Homo sapiens: one gene and its partners. The protein of the gene in region 1 purifies or fractionates together with the protein of each later gene. This does not show direct contact. Each region holds a gene or a part of one and is shown in the gene's direction. Other genes may lie near its edges.

The links.
Region 2: the proteins of HSD17B3 (region 1) and RMND1 purify together in Homo sapiens (affinity purification with mass spectrometry; one large-scale study listed by BioGRID and IntAct). This does not show direct contact.
Region 3: the proteins of HSD17B3 (region 1) and SLC12A4 purify together in Homo sapiens (affinity purification with mass spectrometry; one large-scale study listed by BioGRID and IntAct). This does not show direct contact.
Region 4: the proteins of HSD17B3 (region 1) and MTCH2 purify together in Homo sapiens (affinity purification with mass spectrometry; one large-scale study listed by BioGRID and IntAct). This does not show direct contact.
Region 5: the proteins of HSD17B3 (region 1) and POTEI purify together in Homo sapiens (affinity purification with mass spectrometry; 2 studies listed by BioGRID and IntAct, with this or other methods). This does not show direct contact.

The regions. Positions count from the first base shown.
Region 1 is NC_000009.12:96,238,647-96,244,970, reverse strand, and holds part of HSD17B3 (17-beta-hydroxysteroid dehydrogenase type 3), read left to right. Parts: intron 1-576; coding exon 577-642; intron 643-4,063; coding exon 4,064-4,213; intron 4,214-6,324. UniProt on the Homo sapiens protein: Catalyzes the conversion of 17-oxosteroids to 17beta-hydroxysteroids. Favors the reduction of androstenedione to testosterone. Testosterone is the key androgen driving male development and function. Uses NADPH while the two other EDH17B enzymes use NADH.
Region 2 is NC_000006.12:151,444,613-151,450,936, reverse strand, and holds part of RMND1 (required for meiotic nuclear division protein 1 homolog), read left to right. Parts: intron 1-5,111; 5' UTR 5,112-5,125; coding exon 5,126-5,629; intron 5,630-6,324. UniProt on the Homo sapiens protein: Required for mitochondrial translation, possibly by coordinating the assembly or maintenance of the mitochondrial ribosome.
Region 3 is NC_000016.10:67,960,295-67,966,618, reverse strand, and holds part of SLC12A4 (solute carrier family 12 member 4), read left to right. Parts: intron 1-2,566; exon of another isoform or gene 2,567-2,591; coding exon of another isoform or gene 2,592-2,688; intron 2,689-3,059; coding exon 3,060-3,154; intron 3,155-4,912; coding exon 4,913-5,044; intron 5,045-6,324. UniProt on the Homo sapiens protein: Mediates electroneutral potassium-chloride cotransport when activated by cell swelling. May contribute to cell volume homeostasis in single cells. May be involved in the regulation of basolateral Cl(-) exit in NaCl absorbing epithelia.
Region 4 is NC_000011.10:47,620,086-47,626,409, reverse strand, and holds part of MTCH2 (mitochondrial carrier homolog 2), read left to right. Parts: intron 1-668; coding exon 669-736; intron 737-3,633; coding exon 3,634-3,709; intron 3,710-6,324. UniProt on the Homo sapiens protein: Protein insertase that mediates insertion of transmembrane proteins into the mitochondrial outer membrane. Catalyzes insertion of proteins with alpha-helical transmembrane regions, such as signal-anchored, tail-anchored and multi-pass membrane proteins.
Region 5 is NC_000002.12:130,459,794-130,465,304, reverse strand, and holds part of POTEI (POTE ankyrin domain family member I), read left to right. Parts: intron 1-1,160; coding exon 1,161-2,489; 3' UTR 2,490-5,511.

The DNA.
Region 1 (6,324 bases):
GGAGGTTAATCTATGCAGGGGCCCTAGGGATGGATTTATCCCAAAACAGATTTTCCTGCTGAGTGGGAGGTCCTCTTCCCAGACCGGGGGATGAAGTGCTAACTCCCATCAAGGCAAGCTGGTTCATTTTTTCCCTTACCCTCTTTCTGCCCCACTCTCCAGCTTTATTAAGGCGTACTTGACAAATAAAAATTGTGTCTATTTATAGTATGCAAGGTGATATTTTAATATATGTATATGTTGTGAAACGATCAAGTCAAGCGAATTAACATATCCATGACCTCACATACTTACCGGTTTTTTTTTTGTGGTGAGGACCCCTGAGATCTACTTGCTTAGTAATTTTCAGGTATGTTGTCTATGATTGTTAGCTTTTGTCACCATGCTGTATAGTAGATCTCTAGAACATATTCACCCTGTGCAGCTGAAACTCCGTACCCTCCGTACCCAGAGCTCCCCACTCTATTTTAAGGTCTAGCAGGTAGTGTGTCTGCAGTGCCCCTTGAAGTCAGAGGAAGTTGGCTCTGACGAGGGAGCTCACTCTGGGGCCTCAGGTGTCTCTCCTTCTTGCTCCAGGCGTTTGTGTGCGCATTTTCCAAGGCCCTGCAAGAGGAATATAAAGCAAAAGAAGTCATCATCCAGGTGAGGTGGGCAGCTGTGGAGTCCTTGTCATCATCCAGGTGAGGTGGGCGGCTGTGAGTCCTTGAGAAGGGTTACTCTGGACCTCCCGTGGCTGGGGCCACTGCCTCCTGTGGGTCTGGCTGCTCATGTGTGGTCAACAGGAAGATGAGCTGGGGATGCCACGTGGGCTTTTGGGGCGCCTCAGTCCCACCTGCTGCTGTGGCTTCTGTTGCCCTCCCCCGTGCCCTGGGTGCTGGAGGAGGAAATAGGAGAGGGGAGTGGCTGCTCAGAAATGCTGTGGACCTTCTTGCTACCTGATGCTTCATCAGAGCAGACATTCGGGTTGGTTGTGGCTTTTCCTCTCTGACCCTGGTACAGAACACAGGCTTATGTGGGAGGAATTCTGGAGAAGAAGCAAACAAAACAAAACTGGGCACTTGATCCGAGTTTGAATGAGGGGAGGGGCTAGTCACCAGGGGAGGGGACCTTCTGTGATGGGCCACAGAGGTCCCCACACTCTGGTTCTCGAGCAGGTGAGGAGGAGGCACTCTGCTTCCCTTCCACAGGTCATCGTGGAGATGACCTGTCCTCACCTAGGCAGAGCTGGGCTGTCACTGCCTGCTGCAGGCTGAGCAATGTGATTCCTAAAGTGTCAGTGATTTATTTGTGCTTGGTTCAGCAACAGAGTTAGAGTTAGATAGTTTCTGGAACGTAGAATAAACAGAGTTTTTGTTTTGTTTTGTTATTGTTGTGTGGGAAGAAGTTTTACGATATACTATTAGAAATGGAGAAAGGCACACTCAAAATTATATCTTGGAAATTATTGCTGCGCACACTGATTTTCAATTAAAATATCCAGTGAGAGTATTTTAGGCAGCTGTTCCTATAAACTAACCAGCTACAGGGTAAAGCTTATTAAGTAGGCAGATATGAGTTAATGGTAGGAATTTGGCCAATAATATCATCTCTGAGCCATAGTGAGTGGTTGTAACAGCCTTGCCACCGGGTCACAGTCCCTTTCTCTGCCATGCAGAAGCCGTCTGACCCATCAGAGGGTCCTGCTTCCATGCTGGGGTCTCCGTGCTCCCACTCCCAGCTGAAGCTGGAGTTTCGCTTTTGTAATGCTGCAACTCTGTCTGGGCTAAGTTTGCTGCAGTAAAAAAATAACCCCTAAAATCTCAGTGGCTTAAAACAACAAAGTCCTATTTTGCATTCACGTGACACATCCACTGTGGGTTCACAGAAGACATTGGCTCACTGTGCTGACACAGGGCCCCAGGCTGACGGAGCAGCCGACATGCCAGAGGAAAAGGAGTGGGAAGTTCTAGTGGGTCCTGCTTTGACAATGAAATGCTCTGGCCCAGAGATGACACATGTCACCTCTGTTCATAAATCACTGGCCAACTCTGCTTGCATGGTCCTACACAGCCACAGGGGGCCAGGAAGTGCAATTCTATTATGCATGTGTCTGGAAGAAGAAGGAACCAAGAATCCTTGGTGATTTCTAAACATGAATGATCATCGCAGCCACCTGCTTCCTAGCCATGTGACCCTCAGCAGCATCTTGTCTTGATCCTTGGGGCACAGCTGCCGAGGTAGTGGGTACTATGGAGCAGGAGGGTCAGGAGGAGATGTGGGTGGGGAAATGGAGTCCCTTGTCCCTTCCCTGATGCAGAGAACTTGGAGGTGCTCTTCTAGCAAGGAGGAGAAAGTGAAAAGACTGTGATCTTTCAAAAACCAATTGGCCTCTCCGAACACACACTCAATAAATACTCGCTGAATGAATAAATACTCGCTGAATGCATGAAGAAGTATGTACTGTGGAGTTGGGTTTGAATTTCATCACAGCTCTACCACTTATCATCTGAGTGATCCTGGTCAGCTTGTTTAAACTCTGTGAGCCTCAGTTTTCCCATCCATAAAAAGGGGCTTATAATGCCTGCTTATATCTCTGGGTTATAGTAAAGATCTAACGAAGAAATAAGTACATATGTTTAAACAATATTTATTGAGCCCCTATTTTGTACATACAGGTGTTTTGTCAACCCAAAATCACTTAAGAATGAAAATACTTATCATTACTTCCCTATCTGGAAACTGTGGTGGAGAAAGCACACTCCTTATATTTCTCAAAGAGTAACACTTTGAGATCCTTGGAAGAAAAGTGTTATACAAATTAATCATGCTTTAATTTCCATAGGAACCTGCTCATTTGGATTAATTGATTCATAATTGGGTTCAATTATGAAATAATGTAATTCCAAATGTGATGTGAAGAAAAATAAAACCTAGAAAACTTTTGTGGATTTTTTTTTTTACTTTTTCTTTTCTTTCTTTTCTTTCTCTTTCTTTCTTTCTTTCTTTCTTTCTTTCTTTCTTTCTTTCTTTTTCTGTTCTTTTCTTTTTTTTTTTTTGACAGGGTTTCACTCTGATGTAGCCTAGGCTGGAGTGTAGTGGCACGATCTTGGCTCACTGTAACCTCTGCCTTCCAGGTTCAGTGGATCCTCCTGCCTCAGCCTCCTAAGTAGCTAGGACTACAGGCATGTGCCACCGTGCCTGACTAATTTTTCTATTTTTAATGGAGATGAGGTTTTGCCATGTTGCTCAGGCTGGTCTCGCACTCCTGGGCTCAAGCAATCGTCCTGCCTTGGCCTCCCAACATGCTGGGATTACAGGCATGAGTCACCATGCCAGCCTTTTTTCTTTCTAAAGATGCCAAACCCTTTGTTCTGGGAATAAGGTAATAAAACCCCATTATGAATCCCCATGCCAGGCCACAATGTGGTTAGCCCACAGGTGGAAACATGGTGTTGGGTTTTTAGGGCACAATGTGTGATTGTTTTTCTTACCACAACAGGAAGAGGTTATGAGGTATGTGCTACTCTTGGTTCCTAACTGAAGTGTGAAAGTGGGAATCCAGAGTGCTTTCAGTTGCTCCAACTTTGGTTATATGTATTAGAAACAAACTTCTGAGATAGAGTTGCCAGATTAAATACAGGACCTCCAGTTAAATTTGAATTTCAGATGCCTATGAATAGTTTTCAGTATAAGTATGTCCCATGCAATACTTGGGATACGATTGTGCTGAAGTGGTTTTCATTGTTTGTCTGAACTTCAAATTTAACTGGACATCCTGTATTTTTATTTGCTGTCTTGCAACTTGGTTCTGAGAGAGAGACCCGAGTTCTTCCCATTCACACTGTGTGTTGGGCAGGGCATTTGGGCCACTTGATGTTGGCTAGGTAGGTTCTCATCTTGAGAAACCAAATTTCTGATTCCCAGCTCTGTGCCGGTACTGTGCCTTTTTCCACTCAAGATCTTAAAACTTTGCCTAGGAAGAGAAGGGTCGGGAAATGGTGGGATGGGGGCTTGAGTGTTAATTTCTGAGTCTTCTTCCTGGGGTGGATTGCTTCTGTGCCATGGTCTTTGTTTCCCGTTGTAGGTGCTGACCCCATATGCTGTCTCGACTGCAATGACAAAGTATCTAAATACAAATGTGATAACCAAGACTGCTGATGAGTTTGTCAAAGAGTCATTGAATTATGTCACAATTGGAGGTGAAACCTGTGGCTGCCTTGCCCATGAAATCTTGGTAATTGATAACTTCTCCTTTTCTTGAAGCCAGGGAGGGAGGACACGCAGGTGGCCCTGGCAGGGCTGGGCTAGCTCTTCCTTGCTGCTGGAGCACTCATTGATGCGTTAATATAGCCAGGTACAAGGACTATGTGGCGAGGTGGAGAGAAGCCGGAGCCTGGGAGCTCAGCCACTAGATAACCCCGAAGTTGGCAAGTCTCATTCTTGGCTGCCTCCCTCCTCCCCTCAGAAAGTAAGGTGGCTCCCAGGAGCTGTTGGGCAGGGAAGACCAAGATATATGGCGCTTCCACGTGGGGGCTGCTGTCTTCTCTTGACCCTCTATTCCAGTCAATGTTTAGCTATCAGCCCTCCAGGCAAAAAAACAAAACAAGCACAAACCACTTTGATGTGTAGCATTTGACTTCCACGGTATAAATACTTCCAGCATGGCTGAGTTTAAGCCACGGACATGACGCTGTGTGCATGAATTGAGGAGTGCATGGTGCACAGAGGGCTCTTTTTTTAGTTTTCATTTTTATTTTACTTTAAGTTCCAGGATGCATGTGCAAAACGTGCAGGTTTGTTACATAGGTATACATGTGCCATGGTGGTTTGCTGCACCTATCAACCCGTCATCTAGGTTTTAAGCCCTGCTTGCACTAGGTATTTGTCCTAATGCTCTCTCTCCCCTTGCCCCCCACCCCCCGACAGGCCCCGGTGTGTGATGTTCCCCTCCCTGTGTCCATGTGTTCTCATTGTTCAACTCCCACTTATGAGTGAGAACATGTGGTGTTTGGTTTTCTGTGTCTGTGTTAGTTTGCTGAGAATGATCGCAGTGGGCTCTTATGAGTGAGTGCAAGCCAGCTCCAGCATGCCACAGATCCAGCATATGGCAGAAGAGGCTCTTACCACTCCTGGACTGCTTTTAAAAACAAACACAAACATGAAACAAAGGTAGACTTGAGTATTGCTCACTAATACTGAAGCAAACATAACATTGGCATAGCTCTGACTCCAGTCCCACCAAAGAAAGTTAGATGGGGTTTCCTCACTTACCCATCATCTGCCAATTTCCTCCTCTGTCTCATTGGCTTTTCTACTGCAGGAATTGGATCTCTCTCTGTCTTTCATGGATGGTAGAAGGATTCATGGCTCCATGCGCTAAAGTCTACCAAAGCATTCCTTTATCTGCTGGGACTTAAAGACTCTGGCAAGAGATATTGAACTTTCTCAATTACTTGCTATTTTTATGTAGAACCTCAACAATGTGCATAATCACCAATGTAACTCACACTACAAAGCAGACATGCAGAGAGGATATAAAGTCTTTATTTTTTCTGTTGCTGATCTGGTCTTTTTCCAGATCACCACTTGCTGCAGGAAAATTCATCGAATGTCCAATGAGTCTAAACTGAGTTTGATCTAGTCATCTCAACTGGCCATTTAGGAAATGTACTCTTAGTCTGTTATTTAGGGAGAAATGTTCATCCTTCCCTGGAGGCTCCCTTCTTCCTGCCCCTCTCACTAGGTGGCGCTGGGAGAGGATGCCCTGTGGTCCATGACGGTCCTTCCATGTGTGTGGGCTGGTGTCCTGGGTGGCTGTTCACCTTGCTGAAGTTTATGTCTGTCAAGGATGAGGGAGATGAACCTTTCTGTCCTTTTGACTTGGCCAGTGGATACCCTGATAAGGTCTCCCCAGCTACTGAGGGCAGCAGACTGCTGTACTCTGCCACATCCCCCTCCAGCTACAGGCCCAAGGTCCATCTGCAGCTTTGATCCACATAGACCTCTGGCTGCTATCTCTACATCAGCACCAACGTGGACCTGAAGGAAGCTGGAAAAACCAAATCTCAGCACCTGTCTCACCATGCTGAGATAATTTCCTGTGGTTGGACTGCAGAGGAGTGGGGGCCATGGCCCCTTCTTTGCCCTCAGTGCCACCCTTACTCATGAATCACACTTCTCCATCCTTCATGCGCCAGGCCTTATCCTTCAGCCCCCAGCCTAGGCCAGAGCTCACACCCGACAGAGGACACACTTCTGACCACGCCTTTCTCTTTCTCTCCTCCCACTTCCCACTATCTCCAGGAAAGAAAAATTACAGATCTTTTTTTTTTGAGATGGAGTCTC
Region 2 (6,324 bases), on another chromosome or scaffold:
ACACAGCACATGTTTCAGAGAGCACAGGGTTGGGGGTAAGGTCACCGATTAGCAGGATCCCAAGGCAGAAGAATTTTTCTTAGTATGGAACAAAATGAAAAGTCTCCCATGTCTACTTCTTTCTACACAGACACGGCAACCATCCGATTTCTCAATCTTTTCCCCCCCTTTCCCCCCTTTCTATTACACAAAACCGCCATTGTCATCCCGTCCCGTTCTCAATGAGCTGTTGAGTACACCTCCCAGACGGGGTGGTGGCCGGGCAGAGGGGCTCCTCACATCCCAGTAGGGGCGGCCGGGCAGAGGCGCCCCTCACCTCCCGGACGGGGCGGCTGGCCGGGCGGGGGGCTGACCCCCCCACCTCCCTCCCGGACGGGGCGGCTGGCCGGGCGGGGGGCTGACCCCCCACCTCCCTCCCGGACGGGGCGGCTGGCCGGGCGGGGGGCTGACACCCCACCTTCCTCCCGGACGGGGGCTGGCCCCCCCACCTCCCTCCCAGACGGGGTGGCTGGCCGGGCGGGGGGCTGACCCCCACCTCCCTCCCGGATGGGGTGGCTGGCCTGGCGGGGGCTGACCCCCACCTCCCTCCCGGATGGGGTGGCTGCCGGGCGGAGGGTCTCCTCACTTCTCAGATGGGGCGGCCGGGCAGAGGCGCTCCTCACATCCCAGACGGGGCGGCGGGGCAGAGGTGCTCCCCACATCTCAGACGATGGGCGGCCGGGCAGAGACTCCCCTCACTTCCTAGATGGGATGGCGGCCGGGAAGAGGTGCTCCTCACTTCCTAGATGGGATGGCGGCCGGGCAGAGACGCTCCTCACTTTCCAGACTGGGCAGCCAGGCAGAGGGGCTCCTCACGTCCCAGACGATGGGGGGCCAGGCAGAGGCTGCAATCTCGGCACTTTGGGAGGCCAAGGCAGGCGGCTGGGAGGTGGAGGTTGTAGCGAGCCTCGATCACGCCACTGCACTCCAGCCTGTGCACCATTGAGCACTGAGTGAACCAGACTCCGTCTGCAAACCCGGCACCTCGGGAGGCCGAGGCTGGCAGATCACTCGCGGTTAGGAGCTGCAGACCAGCCCGGCCAACACAGCGAAACCCCGTCTCCACCAAAAAAGTACGAAAACCAGTCAGGCGTGGCGGCATGCGCCTGTAATCGCAGGCACTCGGCAGGCTGAGGCAGGAGAATCAGGCAGGGAGGTTGCAGTGAGCCGAGATGGCAGCAGTACAGTCCAGCTTCGGCTCGGCATCAGAGGGAGACCGTGGGGAGAGGGGGACCGTGGGGAGAGGGAGAGGAGGGAGAGGGAGAGGGCTGGTTGTGTGTTTTTAATGTAGTGGTTGGGGAAGGCTTCACTGGGTAGAAGACATTTTAGCAAACATCTGAAGGAGGTGAGGGTGTGAGCCTTTCAGATCCCTGGGAGAAGAGCGTAAGGAACAGCAAGTGCACAGATCCAGAGACCAGAATGAGGAGCAAAATAAGCAAAGGAGAGTGCTGTCAAAGTGGTGATAAAGGACAGATAATGTAGTGCCATGCAGGCCATTCTGAGGGGTTTAGCTTTTTTTTTTTTTTTTCGTTACAGAATCTCACTCTGTCGCCCAGACTTTAGTGCAGTGGCGCGATCTCGGCTCACTGCAACCTCCACCTCCCGGGTTCAGGCGATTCTCCTGCCTTGGCCTCCCGAGTAACTGGGATTACAGGCACCCGCCGCCACGCTCAGCTAATTTTTTTGTATTTTTAGTAGAGACGAGGTTTCACCATGTTGGCCAGGCTGGCCTCGAACATCTGACCTTGTGAATCACCCGCCTCGGCCTCCCAAAATGCTGGGGTTACAGGCGTGAGCCACCGCGCCAGGCTTTTTTTTTTTTTTTTTTTTTTTTTTTGAGACAGAGTCTCGCTTTGTTGCTCATTCTGGAGTGCAGTGGCGCAATCTCCGCCTCCCAGATTCAAGCCATTCTCGTGCCTCAGCCTCCCAAGTAACTGGGATTATAGGCCCATGCCACCATGCCCGGCTGATTTTTGTATTTTTAGTAGACACGGGGTTTCGCCGTGTTGGCCAGGCTGGTCTGGAACTCCTGACCCCAAGTGATCCCTCCCAAAGTGCTGAGATTACAGGCGTGAGCCGCCATGCCTGGTTGGAGGGCTTTGGCTTTTATTAAGTGAACCGTGAAGCCACAGCTAGATTTCGCGTTGAGATTCAACTTCAAAGGATCACTTTGGTTGCTGTGTTGAGAAGAAACTGTAGGGGGCCCAAAACAGAATCAGGAAAACTGGTTAAGAAGCTATTATAATAATCCATGGGAAGGATAGCAGTTTGGATCAGGTAGTATTATTACTGATGATGAGCAGTGGTCCCTAGAAGGCCCTTGGGATTTACTGAGAAGTTGGATATGGAGAATAAAGAGTCAAGCTGGACCCCACGTTTTTGGCTTAGCAGTTATAAAGATACTTATTACTGCTCATGAATGGGAAAGACTGGGAAGAAAGGGATGCAAGGGATTCTAGGGGTATAAGGGAGAGGTTAGAATGGTAGACCATGGAGTGTAAACTGGATATGGAGGAAGTGAAGTCATGGGGAGTGAGAGACAGTGAAAAGGTGGTTGGATCATTGACTTGTGGGTCCTGTTGGGGTTGAAGAATTATTGGAATTGGGTAATAGAAGGAGTGAGATGCAAAGATAGGAGGTGGTGCTTAGAGAGTAAAATGGATGAAACTGAGATGAGGAGGTCCGATGTATTGATAATGACAATAGGGCCCTGTCTGATAGAAAAACAGTGTAAGGCACAAATGTAATCTTAGGCTTTCTAGAAGGTGCAGTGATAAAAATGGGCTGGGTCCGGTGGCTCACGCCTGTAATCCCAACACTTTAGGAGGCCAAGGCAGGTGGATCACCTGAGGTCAGGATTTCAAGACCAGCCTGGCCAACATAATGAAACCCCGTCTCTACTAAAAATACAAAAAAATTAACTAGGCATGGTGGCAGACACCTGTAATCCCAGCTACTCGGGAGGCTGAGGCAGGAGAATCGCTTGAACCGGGGAGGCGGAGGTTGCAGTGAGCTGAGGTGGCACCACTGCACTCCAGCCTGAGTGACAGAGCGAGACTCCCATCTCAAAAAAAAAAAAAAAAAAAAGAATTTACTCAAAGAGAATAAAAAGAATCCAGGACTGTAGACAAACTTCTAAAATATTTTATAGTTTCTTCAAAATTAAGTGGTTCAACTGGCATGGCATAGTACTAATTAAAGGTGAACTACAGTAGCCAATTGGACTAGAATGAAGCACAGAATGCGAGCTTTTGAAGGGATTTTGGAAGCAGCAGGTTCTACCTCCTAAATATCACTGTGAATCATCTTTGTCCTTATCCTGAAGAGAGGTAGTAAATACAAGGTAGTGGGTAAGAGTGTTGACTTTGGAATTGGGAAAGCCTGGGTTTTATTTTAGTTACATCTCTGCAGCTTCTTAACGGTGAGCACTTAGCCTCTTTAAACCTCAGTTTCCTAATCAGTGAAATGGGATCATTATGAGGTGAAGCCGAGCACTTAGCATGTAGAAAGCGCTCAGAGTGATGTCAGAGTCTGTCTTGTTTCCTCCTACATATCATCACCAAAAATTTGTTTCATGAACATGCATTTGACCGTGTGACTCTGAGTTAAAAGCTCAGCTTTCTCCCCACCTGTAGAAACTTTTTAGGATGACTTTATATATCCTTTGGTGATCTGGCCATCGGCTCTTTTGGTCCTTACCTCCTGCAGCTCACTCCTACCTCCCCGAGATGGGGAGATGAATAGGACTCCATGCCTGGGGTGTTTAACTTGCTGATCCTTCTGCCCTTTCAAGACTCAGTTCAAATGTCACCTCTGTGACAATGCCACACTCTTCACATGCTCCTTTCTCTGGACTAGAGCAATTTGTGCATCTCGTTCATTTTCCTCTGCTAGACTTTGAATTCTGAGATCATTGATTCATCTATCTCTAGCACCTAACATATTATTTTTAAAAAAAGAATTATTGATTACTACGGTCTAACTTTTTTTTTTTTTTGAGACAGAGTCTCATTCTGTCGCCCAGGCTGGAGTGCAGTGGGGCAATCCTGGCTCACTGCAACCTCTCCCTCCCTGGTTTGAACGATTCTATATCTCAGCCACCTGAGTAGCTGGGATTAAAGCCACTATGCTTGGCTAATTTTTTTTTGTATTTTTAGTAGAGATGGGGTTTTGCCATGTTGGCCAGGCTGGTTTTGAACTCCTGGCCTCAAGTGATCCCCCCAGCCTTTAGCCTCCCAGAGTGCTGGGATTACAGGCGTGAGCCACCATGTGTGGCCTACTATAGGCTAACTTTAAAATAACACATTTCATACTGTAAATAAGGGGGAAATTCTGTTTACCTTGTCTGGAATGTTCATGTGTGTATCTGACATGCCTCGCACTCCCATGCCCAGCCCCAAGCTGAAAAGCACCTTCGCCTTCTAGAATCAGCTTAGATCTTTCTGGGAACCTTTCCTGATTTTTTTTTTTTTTTTCCTGAGACAGAAAAAGGGCTGGAATGCAGTGGTACAATCATGACTCACTGCAGCCTCAGTCTTCTGGGCTCAAGTGATCCTCCCACCTCAGCCTGTGAGTAGCTGGGACTACAGGCATGAGCTGCCATCACACCCAGCTAATTTTTAAATTTTTGTCATTTTTGTAGAGATGAGGTTTCACCATGTTGCCTCAGCTGGTCTGGAACTCTTGGACTCAAGCGATCCACCTGCCTCAGCCTCCCAGTGTGCTGGGATTACAAGTGTGAGCTACAGTGCCTGGCCAGCACAGATTTTTATATACTTGATATGCTAATGAAGTAAATGAAGTGGTCCCATCACTATTTTTTTTAAGGTTCTTGTTATGTCAGTAGCTTTATAATCTTGTAATCTTCCAGGAAGAAGGCCAAATGTTGCTAAAGGCAAAGTGGCAGAAACACTGTACTTATATTTTTAACCTTGTTCTTTTACTAGAATTAACTTAGAATGTATCTGTTTTACAAATTTTTCTAACAGAAATATGCCTGCTACCTAGGGAAATATTATATATGTTTTAAACATTAATTTAAAAACTTGAACTTTGAATTCCTTTTCTTTTAGCTTGGGATGTGGTAATGCCAGCCACACTCCTCAGAGCCGTGGCCAGATCTCATCATATATTATCAAAAGCACATCAGTGCCGAAGAATCGGTCATCTAATGTTAAAACCACTTAAGGAATTTGAAAATACAACATGCAGCACACTGACAATACGTCAAAGCTTGGATTTGTTCCTTCCTGATAAAACAGCTAGTGGTTTGAATAAGTCTCAGATCCTGGAAATGAACCAAAAAAAGTCAGATACCAGCATGCTGTCTCCATTAAATGCTGCTCGTTGCCAAGATGAAAAGGCACACCTTCCAACCATGAAATCCTTTGGTACTCACAGGAGAGTGACCCACAAACCAAATCTGTTGGGTTCTAAATGGTTTATAAAAATATTAAAGAGGCATTTCTCATCTGTATCAACGGAAACATTTGTTCCAAAACAAGACTTCCCACAGGTGAAGAGACCACTAAAAGCATCCAGGACCAGACAGCCATCCAGGACCAACCTTCCAGTTCTGTCTGTGAACGAGGTAAAGTAGGGGTGGCCGTGGCTCTCGTGCTTAGTGATCATTGCTCATGCTAAACCAGTGTGCGTTGCACCCCAGCCTTACCGCCAACGTAAGAGAACTAGCAGTCACTCAGACTTCTTCATCAAGGTCTTTGAAGCCTAATAAATATCCAAAGGGATTCAGAATCTTAATTTTTAACAATTAATGATACATATAAAAACAAAATACAGGTGATAACACATGAAAATAGAGTTTATAAAAGATTTGGTTATTGGTCTAAGGAAACTGAAAAAGAGGACCAATATTAAGTCCAGTCTAAGAATGGGACTGTAAAAAAAAATAAAATAAAAAAAAACAAACTAGAAATTCTTCATCAAGTTAAAAAAAATTGTAACTCTGCAGACAGATAAGCCTTTATTAGGCTGTGGCAGTTGCATGGGGCGGTGAAATGACACGGTAGGGTGGACTCCAAAAGCAGCAGGAGAGGAGGGCCCAGCTTTTTTATCCTCTTAAGGTTTAAGGGGGTATTTTTTATTCATCCTTAAGGGGTTTCTGGGAATTTTTCTGCTACAATTTGCATTTCTCCTTCAGTAACAACTTAAGGGTCAAGATCAAGCCCTTGATAACCTTTGTATCTTGCATAATACCTAGAACTGTACCTTGTACTTAAATGTTTATAAGAGGATCTTTAATGCCGATAGTCATCAACTTTAAAG
Region 3 (6,324 bases), on another chromosome or scaffold:
CTCATCCAGCCCACCTTGGCCTGTGGGCAGGGGGTAGGGAGGTGCTGGAGGGGGCACCTCAGGCAGATGTCCGTGTACACAGGGATCAGGAGGGTCACCTGGATCCCCACCTGCCACTGGTGCAGTCACAGTTGCTGGTGGGAACACAGTTGTGTAGCTCACAGGCAGTCCCTAGGCCTAGGCCATATTCAGATTTACTGGGGATCTCAGGTGGTGTCTGAGCAGCTTCAGCCTGGCAGGCATGTCCAGACCTGCCCTGGAATTTTTGGAATGGCTGAGGCCAGAACAGGAGGTCTGAAGCCGAGGGCAGTACAGACATCCAGGCACTACTTAGACCCTTACATTCCCACAAGCCCTTGGGAGCTTTGGGGGAACTCCGAGGAGTGCCCACTGGGCGTCTGGCACTAACTGTCCCTTTTCTAGTGCATCTGGGCAGTTGGAAAAACAAGTGTTACAATCTCCACTTCATAGAAGAGGAAACCAAGGCCGCACAGGGAGTAAGCATGTCTCCCTGGGTCACACGGGGGAAGGTCTGGGAATCCAAGCCAGTCTGCCGCAGTCTGAATGCCCAGAGGCCTAGGTATGCGTACCCTGGCCAAATTGCAGCACTCTTCTCTATTTTTAAAGATTGTGCTGCATAGATGGACTGGAGTCTGTAGTAGGAACGGAACCTGCAGCTCCGCCCCTACAGGGCTCTGATGGACCCTGGGACCCAGATGTGGCCTTCTCCCTGGGTGACCTTGCCTCTGAACATCTTTGAGCTTCACTCTCCTTGTCCCTAAAAGGTAGTAAATGCTCTCTACTGGAATGTTGCTGTGAGAACTAGAGACAACTTTTGGAAGGGCCCCGAGCCATCCTAGAGTGATAGCTGAAGGGACAAGGGATAGGCTAGGTCTTAGAGGACCATTTACAGGCATTTGTGGGGAGCTGCTGTGTGCTCAGCTGTATATTTTCTGGATAGCAATACAGTCTACCCAGAAAGACCAGGCAACAGTGATGGGGCAGGCTGTAGTACATGAGTTTAGAATAAATTATAATTGATTTCCAGCCTACTTCCACAAAAGAATCAGAAGAAATAGCCAACAAAAGTGTCTCCCCAAGTGATTGTTACTCTCAGGAAGATTGAAAACCATGCAGAGGAAGGGGGCAAGCACTCAGGTGAGACAGATGGTGACTTTATCTAAAGAGTAAATTTAGCTTGGAGATTCCTGGCAGCCAAAGCAGAAAGAGAAGTAAGACGAGCTGTATAACTGGCATTTTCTGACAAAATGAAGCACCTGATTTATCAAAGGGAGACACTTTTTTTGTCACAAAAATCCAAAAGTAATTTTCAAAGGCTTTTCACTGAAGAGCCATTAATGTCATTAATGTAAGAGGCAGAGTGTTACTGGGTTTTCAGATTTTTCTTGGGACTCCTTCTGATCCTGAACAAGCATGGAGGGTACAGCAGATATCATAGAGTGTCCGACATGACCCCGCCTGGCTTTAACATGACACGGTGGACTGTCTTGACCTCTGGCTGCCTTTGTCCACTGTGCCATTGGCATTGACCTATGTGAATGTGGGGCTGAGCTGCTTGGCTCACTTAGCTAGTCCAGGTTGCTGGGTGTAGCAGGTGTGCCACTTTCACATGCTGTGGGAAGGAAGAACTGACTTTGCCCCAGAAACTGTCATGGGCACACTTGATTTGTTAGTTTCCTTGGGGGATAAAGAATCCACAGCACAGCACCTGCTGAGTGGTTGTTGGCTCAGAGAAAGCAATTGAAGCCTCATGCTGATAGCAAGAGATGTATCAGATACAGGAGGATGCCTCAATCAGCATTCTCAGCTGCAGTCAAGAAAAATGAATTGTGGCCTATGTAAACAGAAAAGGTTGGCGGGCATGGCCAGTGCATGGCCCAATCACACCACTAGCCTGGGCTGGTGGTGACAGTTCTGTTGCCATCTCCATCACTGGACACCATGCCAGTCCTTCTCATGTCAGAACTACATACTGCTGCCATCCAACACCAAGATGTGTGCTTTCCATTTGCTGTGAGGCCTTGAGCCAGGGCCGGGGCTGCGAGGGTAGCTGGGGTGGAGGGAACACTCAGCACCTAGAAAACGAGTGCTTGGCGTTCTGCTTGGTGGGAAGCTGGGAATGGCACCCACCGAGACTCATAAGGGACAAGAGTTGGAAAACAGGGAAGAATGAATGATAGGAGGCCAGAAAAAACAGTCGAGCTTTGGGAGTTGAGGCAGGCTTATTGAAAAGGAGCATTTCACTCCTTTTGGCGAGATTTCTCAGAGCTGGGGCACTGGCTCATCAGCCTAGGGCTGTAGGCGGAGGTTTGCCTGGGGCAAGCGGCGGGATCTGCGGGCAAGGGGGCCATTGTGTTGCTCCTGCCAGCAGTCCCAGCTCCCATTTTTCTCCCTGCTCAGTCCGACACCCACCCGTCCGACTTTCTTAGGCAACCCTAGAAGGCTCCTGGAATCCACTTCCGCTCTCCACGGCCTGGGGCTTGCCCCACCTCCCGGCATGCCCCGGGCTGCCCTGCAGGACGCCCCCCGCGCAGTGCATGGTGGGGTAGCCAGCCGGCCACCTTTGGGCCATGGCAGCCGAAGGTGCTGTGTGCGGCTTCGTCTATCTGGAGGGCACTGCCTGGGCGGTCCCTGAGGACACCGAACCCTTGGCATCCTGCACATTGGGTACTCCGGAAAGACCGGGAAAGGGACTGGGGCGTGGAGGCGATCTGGGGGCGGGTCAAACGCTGGCCCCGCCCCTCTGCAGGCCCCGTCCCTCAGTGTCCATACGTGCTTGTGCTAGGGCGCCTGCGCCCTCACCTGGATTCCCTTCACTGGAGGGAATGATGTCCCAGGTTTTGGTCACTGGCCTCTCTCTGGCTATCCCTGGGCCTTCAAGAGCATTGGCACGGTGCCATGTGAAAACTGAGTTGCAACCTGGTGACACTGCAGCTCCAAAGTGCTCCACAGAAATGATTTGGGGACTGGCTTTCTGGGAAGGGGCCCAGGCTGGGGGGCTCAGGAAGCAGGCCCTGATTGTCCCTCTCTCTTCACAGGACATGGCAACCACAGAGAGAGCAGCCCTTTTCTTTCCCCCTTGGAGGCTTCCAGAGGAATTGACTACTATGACAGGAACCTGGCACTGTTTGAGGTAGCTGAGGAGCCATTTTGGGCCACAGGTTTGGCACACAGAGGCTTTAGCTAAGCAGGCAGGCTGGACACGTGGGCCTCCTCTGTCTTGCTCTTCCTCTCATCTCCTCTTGTGTTCCTGGTTCTCATGGCAGCCGGGCTGCAGTTCCCTTGGCCCTTTCAACTGAAACTGCCTTTCCAGAGGCCACTCACAATCCCACCCCCATTGCTACCTCCAGGGTGGTTCACCTCTGACTTCCTTACAACCCCTCAGCAAGGAAACGCCCGCTTAGGATTTCCCAACTCAGGATTTCTCCTCTTCCTTCCACTCCTGGTTCTTCTCCAAGTCCATGGTTCTTCGCTCTCCCATGGATTCTTCCTTGTCTTTCTTGGTTGACCCTTCCAGCTCTGTCCCTCTCTAGTTCCCTGAGTCCTGGTCCATTTGCAGCTTTAGGGGATACGTCTCTGGAAAGATTCCCAAATATCTGCCTCTGTACTTGAGTTTTATCTTCTTCAGACTCAAGCTGAGCAGTGAGATCTGGATTTAAGACGTAGTTTAAGCTCCTAAACTCTGACCCATGCATTCAGCCACTGCATGGCTGAGTAATGGAGACTCCTTAATCTGCCTTTTTTTTCTCTTTCTTCATTTTGAGATGGAGTCTCACTCTGTCGCCCCAGGCTGGAGTGCAGTGACGCGATCTCAGCTCATTGCAACCTCTGCCTTCCAAGCTCAGCGATTCTCCTGCCTCAGCCTCCCGAGTAGCTGGGATTACAGGTGCCCACCACATGCCTGGCTAATTTTTGTGTTTTTAGAGACGGGGTTTCACCGTGTTGGCCAGGCTGGTCTTGAACTCCTGACTTCTAGTGATCCTCCTGCTCAGCCTCTCAAAGTGCTGGAATTACTGCTGTGAGCCACCACATCTGGCCGAGGCTCCTTAATCTCCACATGCCCCCAAGGGCCCTCGTCTTCCTTTCTCACACCAAAGCAACTTCTCCCTGTGTGTAGGTCAGAAAGGAGCTGACAGAGAGGGAAAAGCTAAATGTGGGCAGGAGGCAGGTAGAAGCACAGCCTCGAGAAGGCTGCAGGAGCAGGGATCATCGCCTAGACCCCGGTGGGGCTGGGGGACCTGAGCTCTGGGAGGCCTCCTGACCTGGGAAAGCAGCAAGGTTCTGCGGTGAAGGCCTTGGCCCAGCCCCGCCTGAGGATGGGCTGGAGGATCAGGATCCCATCTCCGCGATTGATGTGGGTACTTGCAGGACTGGGGTCAGGGGAAGACCATCCAGGGAGATCAGGGTTTGGGCAGACAAGGGAGACTTCACTTGTCCCAGACATCACTCTTTTGCCCTCTTTGGTTCCCTGAGGTGACTAGAGTGGCTTTTTTGTGGGGAGGGTAGGCGTGAGTCCTAGAGGTGCAGCCATAGCCAGGAGGTGGCTGGGCAGAGCAGGCAGGATGAAGTATGCCATTGCCCCCCTGCCAGCCGTGTTCTTCCCTGCCCTCTCTCCCCTGAGGCAGGTGGTTTTCACAAATGGGCTGGCAGTGATTGTAGCCAAGGCGGGGTAGAGAGAAGCAGCCGCGGGGCTGGGCCTTTGAGTGCCACGTGCTGGGGTGTGGTGTGCACACCTGTCCAGTTGGATGGCTTGGACTTCCCCAGGTAGGAACTGGGATCAGGCCCAGGCCTGTCTCAGGGCTTGGAACAGGGCCAGGGACCAGGCAGCTGGCTCCACACAGCTGGCACCCACCTGGCCCAATGCCATCTTGCCCTGTGGCTCTGTTTGCAGGAAGAGCTGGACATCCGCCCAAAGGTATCGTCTCTTCTGGGAAAGCTCGTCAGCTACACCAACCTCACCCAGGGCGCCAAAGAGCATGAGGAGGCCGAGAGTGGGGAGGGCACCCGCCGGAGGGCAGCCGAGGTGAGCTGGTTGGGGCGGCAGAGGGGCCACACCTGGGAAGACAGACACAGCACCATGGAATTGACTGTTTCCCCACATGGTGGTGAGCACACTGGGGGAAGTGGGTGCCAAGCATAGTGAGCAGGGAGGATGGGCACTGAATGCCTTGTCTCAGGAGGCTTTAAGAAGTGACCTAATGAGAATCCCCCCGGGGGGCAGAGGGCCAGGGAGCCCCTCAGGAATGACAGCAGGAGACACAGCTGCCTGTACTCAGCCTTTACTGTGTGCGAGGTACCACACCAGGCCTGGGTTCTCATATGTCATCTGTACAACAAAACCAAGAGGCAGGTGCTTACTATCATCCCCATTTTTCAGACAAGGAAATAGTGTCAGGGACATTAAGGAACTTGTCTAAGGTGACTGAGCTAGACAAGATCAATGTGTAATGCTGGGAGATGGATTCGTAGATTTTATGGGAGACAGATTTGTGGGATATGTAACTATGCAAAATGCCAGATCAGTGACATTGTGTGAGGCTGGCTAAGAGTGTTGCCCTTGGAGCCAGGAACCAGGTTGTCTCTCGGAGGTCATGCAATCCAGAGCAAGTCACAAACCCTCCTGCTGCTCGCAGTGTTGGCCCAAGGCTCTATTGGCAGAAGCCTCCAACAACCCCCTGGGTTCCTTGAGTGCCAGTGTCAGGGGACATGTGTATGTGATCGGAGCCTGATGCTGCCTTGTGGGGCTTTCCTGTCCCACTTTTTGGTCACTAATCCAGTTCTCTGGCCCTTCAGCCCTCTTCTCTTTGGGGTGACTGTTACCTCTTTGCCTAGCTCCTCTGTGTCATTGCGGCTCAGTGTAGCTGAGGGCTGGGGATTTTTCTACATTTTTCATTTGGAGGCTAGGGACCCTCCCTCTCCACACACTGACTCCCTGAGGTTTGGGAAGCAGTGGTGTTTTAAGAGGAGCTGACGTCTGGCACTGGCTGTAGTATTCTCAGAGGTCGGCACAAGCAGAAGGCGCTCCTGGCTGGGATAAGCCAGGCCTGCAGCCTCACACCTGGTCGTGAGATTTGGGCCTTTCTGGGGTGGGGCCAGCAGAGAAGGTAGACCCCACTGAAGCGCGTCTCTCACCTTGCCCTTCAGGGAGGCAAACCAGCCCACACTTCAGAGAGGGCAGCTGATACCTTGAGGTCGCACAGACCTGACCCTGACCCTGTGCAGCCAGGTGTGACTAGATAGCAGAGAACCCTAACTGCGTCTGGCCATGTCTGTCCAGCACTGCAGGGGTGTCTCAACCTCTGA
Region 4 (6,324 bases), on another chromosome or scaffold:
TTGAGGCCAAGAGTTCAAGACCAGCCTGGGCAACTGAGCAAGACCCCATTTCTACAAAAGTGAAAAAAAAAAAAAAAAGCTGGGGCAGGCGCGGTGGCTCACTCCTGTAATCCCAGCACTTTGGGAGGCTGAGGTCGGGAGTTCGACACCACCTTGGCCAATTTGGAGAAATCTCATCTCTACTAAAACTACAAAATTAGCTGGGCATGGTGGTGCATGCCCGTAATCCCAGCTACTTGGGAGGCTGAGGCAGGAGAATCGCTTGAACCCCAGGAGGCGGAGGTTGCAGGAGAATCGCTTGAACCCAGGAGGCGGAGGTTGCAGTGAGCCAATATCACACCATTACACTCCAGCGTGGGCAACAAGAGGGAAACTCCATCTCAAAAAAAAAAAAAGTAGTTGGGTATGGTGGCGTGCGCCTATAGTCCCAGCTACTCAGGATCAGAGAATTCTTCTGGCCTTTTGTTAAAATGTTGGATGCAGTGGTGTGCTAAGAGGAAGAAGCATCTCCAGGCTCAAAACTGTAACTGTTGTCTTTCCAGGGTACCGATGAAGCGAGACAAGTGTTAGAGTGTCTCACCGCAGTGGCACTAGGCCTTTAAGGTAAAGGAAAGGAGAATAAAGACTAGGAATGATCTAATAACAGCTGCCTTGTTTCCATTTTACAGTTTTTTGCGAGTATGTTGACCTATCCCTTTGTGCTTGTCTCCAATCTTATGGCTGTCAACAACTGTGGGTAAGCACTTTGTATTTCTTATTCTAGTAGGTGGTTGACTGTATGCTGACAGGCGGAGCAGCCTTGTAGAAATTTAGGAAAGATGAATGATCAGTATCAATCTCTGATTGGTATTTTTTTAAAAAGGGGGGGAGGAAAAGTATAATTGATACCATTAGAAGATTCCTAATTTTTTTCTTTGTATGCCCTATGCAGCAGCAGCCTCAATTTGTATTTATTTATTAATTATTATTATTATTTTTTTTTTTTTTGAGATGGAGTCTTGCTATGTTGCCCAGGCTGGAGTGCAGTAGCATGATCTCGGCTCACTGCGACCTCCACCTCCTGGATTCAAGTGATTGTCCCGCCTCAGCCTCCTGAGTAGCTGGGATTACAGGCATTCGCCACCATGCCCAGCTAATATTTTTGTATTTTTGGTAGAGACAGGGTTTCACCATGTTGGCCAGGCTGGTCTCGAACTCCTGACCTCAAGTGATCCACCCGCCTCAGTCTCCCAAAGTGCTGGGATTACAGGCATGAACCACCATGCCAGGCCAATTACTATTATTATTTATAGTTTTTGTTTTTGTTTTTGTTTTTGTTTTTTGAGACAGAATCTCACTCTGTCACCCAGGCTGGAGTGCAGTGGTGCAGTCTCGCTCCATTGCAACAGACACCTCCTGGATTCAAGCAGTTCTCATGCCTCAGCTTCCCAAGAAGTTGTGATTACAGGCATGTGCCACCATGCTGGGCTAATTTTTGCATTTTTAGTAGAGATGGGGTCTTGCTATGTTGGCCAGACTGGTCCTGAACTCCTGACCTCCGGTGATCTGCCTACCTCGGACTTCCAAAGCGCTGGAATTAAAGGCGTGAGCCACTGCACCTGGCCTATTTTTATTTATTTTTAATTTTTTTAGAGATAGGGCTGCAATGTGGTGGTGAAGTCCTAGCTCACTGCAGCCTTGAACTCCTGAGCTCAAGGGATCCTCCCATCTCAGCTTCCCAAGTAGTTGGGAGTACATGTGCATGCCACCATGCCTGGCTAATTATTTTTTGTGAAGACACAGGGTCTCACTTTGTTGCCCAGGCTGTTCTTAAATTTCTAGGCTCAAGTGATTCTCCTTCCTCAGCCTCTTAAAGTGCTGGGATTACAGGGGTGAGCCACCATGCCCAGCCAACATATTGTTATTTTAAATCTTTATCTTTTCTATGAAAGTGACAAAAGGTATATCAGGGATTAAATGACAATCCATACCTGTTTTTCCTAGGGGCTTTATGGAGAAAGTGAGTTTTAAAGAACCAGAATTAGGATATTTAGTCTATGGAAAGTTTGATGACCTTTTCTCTGTATTGGTTAGAAGGGCAGGTTTTGGTATAGTGGTAGACTCCATTGATTTCCAAATTCTAGATGCCAAGTGACTCTACTGAGTTGGGCAAAATTTTGCCTTTTTTTTTTTTTTTTTGAGATGGAGTCTCACTCTGTTGCCCAGGCTATAGTGCAGTGGTGCAATCTCGACTCACTGCAACCTCCACCTCCCAGGTTCAAGCAATTCTCCTGCCTCAGCCTCCTGAGTAGCTGGGATTACAGGTGCCCACCAGCATGCCTGGCTAATTTTTTGTATTTTTTTGTTGTTGTTATTGTTGAGACAGAGTCTTGCTCTGTTGCTCAGGCTGGATTGTGGTGGCGCGATCTTGGTTCACTGCATCCTCCACCTCCTGGGTTCAAGTACTTCTCCTGCCTCAGCCTCCAGAGTAGCTGGGATTATAGGCACTTGCCACCACCCCCGGCTAATTTCTGTATTTCTAGTAGAGACAGTGTTTCACCATGTTGGCCAGGCTGGTCTCGAACTCCTGACCTCAAGTGGTCCACCCTCCTCGACCTCCTAAAGTGCTGGGATTACAGGCGTGAGCCACTGCACCCAGCCTTGCCTTTTTTGTTTAATTCAAAATTCTTTTCCCATATGGTACCTGACATATCATTAAACATGTTACTGTTTTCAAATAAGATCAGATAGCTATGTGGAGTTTTGAACATTTTACATTGTTTGTTTTCTGGTTTTGTTTGTTTCATGTTACTCCTGGCAAGCTGTGATGTTTTCTGATACGTAGAGCAACTGCCATTTTTTAGCACAGTGTAAACTTGAAGGATGAATTAAATGTATTATTATTATTTACAGTTTTTTCAAGATGAAGTGATTATACCTAAGTAGGAACATATATATCTACTGTTTATATCCGTTTTCATGTTTAGTATCTTTGTGAACACCAGTTAGTTTTTAAATCTCCTTTCCCTGCTCTTTTTTTTTTTTTTTTTTTTTAAAAAAAGACTGGTTCTTACTCTGTCACCCAGGCTGGAGTGCAGTAGTGCAATCTTGGCTCACTGCAACTTCCGCCTCCTGGGTTGAAGCAATTCACATGCCTTAGCCTCCCAAGTAGCCGGGATTACAGGCATGCGCCACCATGCCAGCTCATGTTTTTGTATTTTCAGTAGAGATGGGGTTTCACCATGTTGGCCAGGCTGGTCTTGAACTCCTGACCTCAAATGATCCACCTGCCTTGGCCTCCCAAAGTGCTGGAATTACAGGTGTGAGCCACCGTGCCCGGCCACCTTTCCCTGCTCTTTAATCATGTAAATGCTGTGTTCTGGAGTTTCATTTGTCCACAAAGGAAAAGTCTAAATGTTTTAGAAATTAAGGTTGAAGTTTATGTTTATTTATTTATTTGAAACCTAAATATAGGGGAGGAATTCTCTTTTGGATGCTTGATCGTTCCCCTGCTTCAATATGATTTGTTTCATTGAACTAAAATGATCTCTCAGGGAATCTTCTGTGCAGCAGAATATTTTGACAAGGTTTATCAACGTCTCAAGAGAATGGTTAATATTAACATGAATAGCTCCATGTTTTTTTCTATTTTAGTCTTGCTGGTGGATGCCCTCCTTACTCCCCAATATATACGTCTTGGATAGACTGTTGGTGCATGCTACAAAAAGAGGTATTTCTTTTTCTCTGTCTCTCTCATTTTATTTTGTTTTATTTTTATTTATTTGTTTTCTTAAATATTGTCTCTGGAATCCCAAGTTAACTCTTGTAGCTCACTTTAGCTAGAGTTAGTCTAGTCTGCCAGTTAATGTACACTTTACAGTGTTCTGTGTTTTCACTTTGGCATAATAGTAAAATGTGATGTTTAGAAATCATGAGCAGGAGTAATGAAGAAGAAAGAATCCCTAGATGAGACCTAGAAGCCATTTGAGTGCCCACATTCAACTTACAAATACGATCCAGGTAGATTATTATCCTGGTAAAATGATGGCCTTGATTTTAGACTCTTTTTTTCCCCCAAACTCACCTTTCATAACCACTTATTTGTCACAGTGGTATTGACAGAGCTGGTCTTATACTTCTAGAGTCTTGTTAGTGGATGATTTTGCCTAGATACCAATTTAGGGTTTGTTATTACTATGAGGTGTATAATCTGCAACAAAAAATTATTTATTATCTAGGCAAAGCTTTATTGGAAAATAAAATAATGGGCTGGGTGCAGTGGCTCACGCTTATAATTCTAGCACTTCGAGAGGTCTAGGTGGGCAAATTGCTTGAGCCTAGGAGTTTGAGACCAGTTGAGGCAACATGATGAGACCTCATTGCTACAGAAAATACAAAAACTTAGCCAGGCATAGCACCTATAGTCCCAGCTACCCAGGAGGCTAAGGTGGGAGGATCACCTGAGCCCAGGAGGTCAAGGCTGCAGTGAGCCAAGATTGCATCACCGCACTTCAGCCTGGGTGACAGAGTGAGACCCTGTATCCAAAAAAGGAAAATAAAATAACGGCTAGGTATGGTGGCTCATGCCTATAGTTCCAGTTACTCAGGAGGCTGAGCCAGGAGGATCACATGAGTCCAGGAGTTTGAGGCCAGCCTGGGCAACACAGCCAGACGTGTCTCTTAACAAAAAACTACAGGCCAGGTGCAGTGGCTCACAGGTGTAATCCCAGCACTTTGGGAGGCCAAGGCGGGCAGATCACTTGAGGTCAGGAGTTTGAGACCAGCCTGGGCAACGCAGTGAAACCCCATCTCTACTAAAATACAAAAGAAATTAGCTGGGCGTAGCAGCGTGTGCCTGTAGTCCCAGCTACTGGGGAGGCTGAGGGAAGAGAATTGCTTTAACCCAGGAGGTGGAGGTTGCAGTGAGCCAAGATTGTGCCACTGCACTCCAGCCTGGGTGACAGAGCAAGACTCCATCTCAAAAAAAAAAAAAAGACAATAACAACAACAAATGGATTGGCTGTGGGCTAAATTTAGCACAGGATCACTTAAAATGATTATCAGTTTAAAGCTGTTTTTGAAGGGGGGTCCACTTCTTAAAAGATTGTAGAAGAAAGCGTATAAAGAAGCTCTTTGTTGCATTATTTTATAGCACTAGTGATATATAAGAGAAAGGCCTTTGAAATCTGAATGAAAAGGCCTAAGTGTTGTTTGTAGTTGCTCTTGCTTAGTGTGCCCACAAAGCCCCTCTGTGAATCCAAGCTTGAATACTTGAATGATTTCAGTACAGACCTACTATGAACATTGTGCATTTCATTCTGAGTTTTACTCTCTATTGTACAGTGTGGTCCCTGTTTAAATGGAAAAAATGGCCTTTCCTTCCTTCCTTTTCTGACTAACACTCTGTTATAGGAAGAAAGCAGACAGAGAATGGATTACGGTGTCAAACACACTTAAAGTAGGAACAGTTGTTCCTGTAGGTGCTTACAACAACAGCAAATCTTGATTGGGCATTTACTGTATACCAGATATCATGCTAAGAGCTTTTCTTACATCAGCTCATGTAATCCTCAAAACAGCTGTGTGAGAATAGGTGTCATTCTTAATCACCCATTTCACATATGAAGAAACTGGGGCTTAGAGCAGTTTAGTGCCAATTACATAATGCAAGGTCACATGGCCTATATTTGGGAAGGCTCAGATTTATACTCCAGAGTGTACTCAGTTGCACTCAGAACATTATTACTTTATTTTTATTTACTTATTTGGTTCTTTATTTTTTAGAGACAAGCTCTGTCGCCCAGGCTGGTGTGCAGTGGTGGCATCACAACTCACTGTAGCCTCAAACTCCTGGGGTAAAGCAATCCTCCTACCTCAGCCTCCCAAGTAGCTAGGACTACAGGCATGCTTCCACCATGTCCTGTTAATTTTTTTGTTTTGTTTTGTTTTTGAGACAGGGTCTCACTCTGTCACCCAGGCTGGAGTGCAGTGGCATGGTATTGGCTCACTGCAACCTCTGCCTCCTGGCTGAGGTCTCTGGCTCAAGTGATCGTCCCACCTCAGCATCCCAGGTAGCTTGGACTACAGGCACATACCGCTAAGCCCAGCTCATTTTTTTGTTTTTTGTTTTTTGTTTTTTTTAATTTTATTATTATTATACTTTTAAGTTTTAGGGTACATGTGCACAACGTGCAGGTTTGTTACATATGTATACATGTGCCGTGTTGGTGTGCTGCACCCATTAACTCATCATTTAGCATTAGGTATATCTCCTAATGCTATCCCTCCCCCCTCACCCCTGTTTTTTGTTTTTTGTTTGTTTGTTTTTTTGTTTTGTTTTGTTTT
Region 5 (5,511 bases), on another chromosome or scaffold:
AAGTCAATTGATTATTTTTACTGATAAGAAAGTAGGAAATGTATAGCTGGGTCAGAGGCCACATTGTGGATACCATTATCCTTACTTTTGCAGAGAGGAACAGTTTGCTCCAAGTAGTTTCTCATTTCAGTGTAAAGAGGTTTGAAAACAATGACATGCCATGATACACATTTAGTAATAATTTATTGATAAGTATTTTGTTTCTGGAGAAATAGTTCAGTATATTTCCCCTATTTCACCATTACTACTGTTTCAAACATTATAAAGAGGAAATAAAAGTTACCGCAATGGCAAATAATCTCATGATTTCTAAGAAAATCTCTATAAGTTGTATCTTATTTACCATTCATATTTTGAAACAAAAGGTTTCTTTTGTATTTATATATTTACACCACAGAAGTAAGTGTGGTTTTGTGGAGGATCACTAGAAGTAGCATCAGCAGACCTGGGGAAAATCCTGCATCTGTGTATATTTTTTGACCTCTCCTTTTAAGAATCGCGATCTTAAATGAGTTCAGTGTTATATGTAGAAGTGGAATGCCTAGATACAGATGTGTACAGTGTAGAAGGGTACAGTGCTTAGATTTGACAGTTATAAATAAATGTAATTCTTATAACTGAGTATAGAAATATTAGAAATGTAGAATATCGGTAAAATGTTCTTCAGTAAAAGAACTTTAAGAACTTTGAGAAATTGCTTCTGTCCAAATATATGCATAGCTAAGGCTCTTAGGATGGTGTGGTTGATAGGTTAGATATCAGAGTGTAAACCTAATCTTAAAAATGTAGTCAAATTGTTAATCTTATATTTTATGCCTCTGGGTTTTTTGTAACTCAGAAAAAGGCTTTTTTAATTCTGGGATTCTTAAAAATCCTCTAGTGATTTATTTTTCATCGTCTTTAAATAAATATTTAAACTTTTAGGAATTTAGGAGCAGATTCCTAAAAGTTTAAATATTTATTTAAAGGCGATGAAAAATAAATCACTGGAGGAATTTACACTCTTATTAGGTTTGAAGTTTTGTCCAATTTTTTTCCAGTTAAATATCCACTATGGGGATTCTTTCATTATACAAATACATGTTATTTTTGAATTTCAGAAGAAATAATGATATGTCAATCTATTGAGTGCTAACTAAAAGTTCTCTTTGTTTACTTAGCTTTCTCTTAGTTGTAAGAAAGAAAAAGACTTCTTGCATGAAAATAGTACGTTGCGGGAAGAAATTGCCATGCTAAGACTGGAGCTAGACACAATGAAACATCAGAGCCAGCTAAGAAAAAAGAAATATTTGGAGGATATTGAAAGTGTGAAAAAAAAGAATGATAATCTTTTAAAGGCTCTACAATTGAATGAGCTCACCATGGATGATGATACCGCCGTGCTCGTCATTGACAACGGCTCTGGCATGTGCAAGGCCGGCTTTGCGGGCGACGATGCCCCCCGGGCTGTCTTCCCTTCCATCGTGGGGCGCCCCAGGCAGCAGGGCATGATGGGGGGCATGCATCAGAAAGAGTCCTATGTGGGCAAGGAGGCCCAGAGCAAGAGAGGCATCCTGACCCTGAAGTACCCCATGGAACACGGCATCATCACCAACTGGGATGACATGGAGAAGATCTGGCACCACACCTTCTACAACGAGCTGCGTGTGGCCCCTGAGGAGCACCCCATCCTGCTGACCGAGGCCCCCCTGAACCCCAAGGCCAACCGCGAGAAGATGACCCAGATCATGTTTGAGACCTTCAACACCCCAGCCATGTACGTGGCCATCCAGGCCATGCTGTCCCTGTACACCTCTGGCCGTACTACTGGCATCGTGATGGACTCTGGTGACGGGGTCACCCACACTGTGCCCATCTATGATGGGAATGCCCTCCCCCATGCCACCCTGCGCCTAGACCTGGCTGGGCGGGAACTGACTGACTACCTCATGAAGATCCTCACCGAGCGTGGCTATAGGTTCACCACCATGGCCGAGCGGGAAATCGTGCGTGACATCAAAGAGAAGCTGTGCTATGTTGCCCTGGACTTCGAGCAGGAGATGGCCATGGCGGCCTCCAGCTCCTCCCTAGAGAAGAGCTACGAGCTGCCCGATGGCCAGGTCATCACCATCGGCAACGAGTGGTTCCGCTGCCCCGAGGCGCTCTTCCAGCCTTGCTTCCTGGGCATGGAATCCTGTGGCATCCATGAAACTACCTTCAACTCCATCATGAAGTCTGATGTGGACATCCGCAAAGACCTGTACACCAACACAGTGCTGTCTGGCGGCACCACCATGTACCCTGGCATGGCCCACAGAATGCAGAAGGAGATCGCTGCCCTGGCGCCTAGCATGTTGAAGATCAGGATCATTGCTCCTCCCAAGCGCAAGTACTCCGTGTGGGTCGGTGGCTCCATCCTGGCCTCGCTGTCCACCTTCCAGCAGATGTGGATCAGCAAGCAGGAGTATGATGAGTCAGGCCCCTCCATTGTCCACCGCAAATGCTTCTAGGTGGACTCTGACTTAGTTGCGTTACACCCTTTCTTGACAAAACCAAACTTCTCAGAAAACAACATGAGATTGGCATGGCTTTATTTGTTTTCTTGTTTCATTTTTTGTTTTGTTTTTTATTGGCTTGACTCAGGATTTAAAAACCGGAATGGTGAAGGTGACAGCAGTCGGTTGGAGGAAGCTTCCTCCAAAGTTCTACAATGTGGCCAAGGACTTTGATTGTACATTGTTCTTCTTTTCAATAGTCATTCCAAATATTGTGAGACGCATTGTTTCAGGAAGCCCCTTGCCCTGCTAAAAGCCACCCCACTTCTCTCTAAGGAGAATGGCCCAGTCCTCTCCCTAGTTCACACAGGGGAGGTGATAGCATTGCTTTTGTGCAGATTACATAATGCAAAATTTTTTGAATCTTCGCCTTAATACTTTTTAATTTTGTTTTATTTTGAATGATCAGCCTTCGTGGCCCCCCTCTTTTGTACCCCAACTTGGGGTGTATGAAGGCTTTTGGTCTCCCTGAGAGTGGCTGGAGGCAGCCAGGGCTTACCTGTACTCTGACTTGAGGAGAGTTGGATAAAAGTGCACACCTTAAAAAAAATTGAGGAAGCACAGTATTTCAGTACAGTGGACAGCTTAGCATGTTGACAACTGAGAATAAAATGCTCAGTTCTGAACTGGACAATGTAAGACACAACGAGGAAACACCGGAAATGGAAATTCAATTACGTCATTGTAGACTGGCTGCTGCTCTACATGATTGTGACCAAAGTCAGATAGCTGAAAGAGACTTCTTTCCAGAGAACAAGACATGAACAGGTTTATTTACAGAAGACAATGAATTCTCATTTATCTCACCTAAAAGAGAACAGATTCTTTCTCAACAAGTCTAACGTAGACAGTAAAATCAACAGGCTAAAAATTAAGCTCCATGAAACAAGATAAAACTCTGAGAGAAAAGACGGGGCAGGCCGCCATCTTTCCCGTTCAGGCAACTTAGTCATTCCAGCCTGCGGGCTTTGGAGAGTACAAACCGACGAGGGACAGAAGAGATCCCACAGCACAGCATAGCTGCTTTACCAAATCATGGCCAGACTGCTTCTGTAAGCAGGCCCCTGATCCTGTTCCATCTCACTGGACAGGACCTCCCAACTGGGGCCTCCAGCTACCCCCACCAGCATTCCTTGGCCAATGGAAATGTGAAATGTTCCTGGGACAGAGCTCCCGGAGAGGGGCAGGCCCCCACCTTTGCTCTTTCGGTGACTAGCCATTCTGGCCTGCGGGCTTTGGAGAGCCCAAGCTGACAAGGGGTGGAAGAGGTACCTCAGCACAGCACAGCCACGCTACCAAAACGTGGCCAGACTCTTGTTTACGTCAGTCCCTGACCACATTTCTAGTCAGTGGGTGAAGTCTTTCAACCAGGGTCTCTGGCTACCTTGACTGCTGTTCTCTGGCCGACAGAGGTCTCAGGCCTCCCTGAGTCAGAGCTCCCAGGGGGAGGACCAGATTGTCATCTTTGCTGTTGGGGCGACCCAGGCATTTCAGCCTTAGGGCTTCAGAGTGTCTGAGGCGGACCAGGGGCTGAAGTGAACCCCCAGCACAGCACAGCTGCTCTATAAAAACGTGGCCAGACTTTTCTTTTTGAAGCAAGTCCCTGTTCTTGTTCGTCCTGACTAGGTAAGACTTCTCAACTTGCCTCCAGCCACATCTTATAGGTGTGTTCAGATTGGCAACAGGTTCGTACCTCAGTGGTACAGAGCTTCCAGAGGAAGGGGCAGACTATCATCTTCCCTGGAAAATACAAGGCAATTAGGGACTGGAGGGGACCCCCAGCATACCACAGCAGCCCTACAGAAAAGTGGCCAGGCTCTCTACTTGATGGGCAGATCCTCCTGGCCTGGGTCTCTAGCCAGCCCACCACTGGAGCTATCAAGCCAGTAGCAACTCTGCAGTTCCTGGGACAGAGCTTCCAGGAGCAAATGAAATCCTTTCTGCCACTGCCTCTGCAGTGGAACTGCCCTTGCTGCCCTCAGAAGATGCAAGGGAGCAAAGACCCTAAGTGCCCTATCAACACCTCCAATAAGCTGCAGTTGACCCAAAGAACAAGCCAGTCCATCTCCCACGGGTACCACACACCCTCCACTACTCATCACCAGACAGGGAACCCTGGCTTGGGCCCACAGCACAGACCCTCCATCCTGGGCTGATTACACTAAGTGATTGCTAACTCACATGTCTCTGGGATGGAGCACCCAGGAAACAAGCAAAGTGGTGGAGCAGCAAGTCAGGTGATGTGGAGCCCAGAGGTCAGGGATGGCTGTCTCTCTAGGGTCCACTTGCCCTTGTGAGACACTTTATCCCAGCACTTTAGGAATACTGAGGTCATACCAGCCACATCTTATATGCAAGATTGCCCAGCAGAGATCAGGTCCGAGAGTTCCCTTTTTAAAAAAAGGAGACTTGCTTAATAAAAGAAGTCTAGCCACGTTTGTGTAGAGCGGCTGTGCTGTGCTGGGGGTTCACTTTTGAGAGAGTTCTCCTCTGAGACCTGATCTCTGGAGGCTGGGCAATCTTGCACTTGAGATGGGGCTGGTCTGATCTCAGCACTCCTTAGTCTGCTCGCCTCTCCCATGGCCCCAGCCTGGCCACACCTGCTTACGGGGCACTCTTAGATGCCCACACCATAGCTTCCGTGCTAGTGGACTGTACCATATCAGTGGAGAGCTGCAGCAAGGTGGCCCCTAGAGCCACGCACCAGCCTGCACATTGCCTCTCCATACGGCAGCCCTTTATTTGGAAACTTCCTAAATCACTTTGCTGTGTGTGTTTACACGGGTGGGTTTTGCTTTACTTGCCCTGAGAGCACACAGGAGTGCAGCACACACCCCAACCCACATCAACTGCCATTAAAGAAAAGAAATTTCAGCCCAGAATTTCATGTCCAGCAAAATTAAGCATCATAAGTGAAGGAGAAATAAGATCCTTTTCAGACAAGCAAGTGCTGAGGGAATTTGGTATCACCAGATCT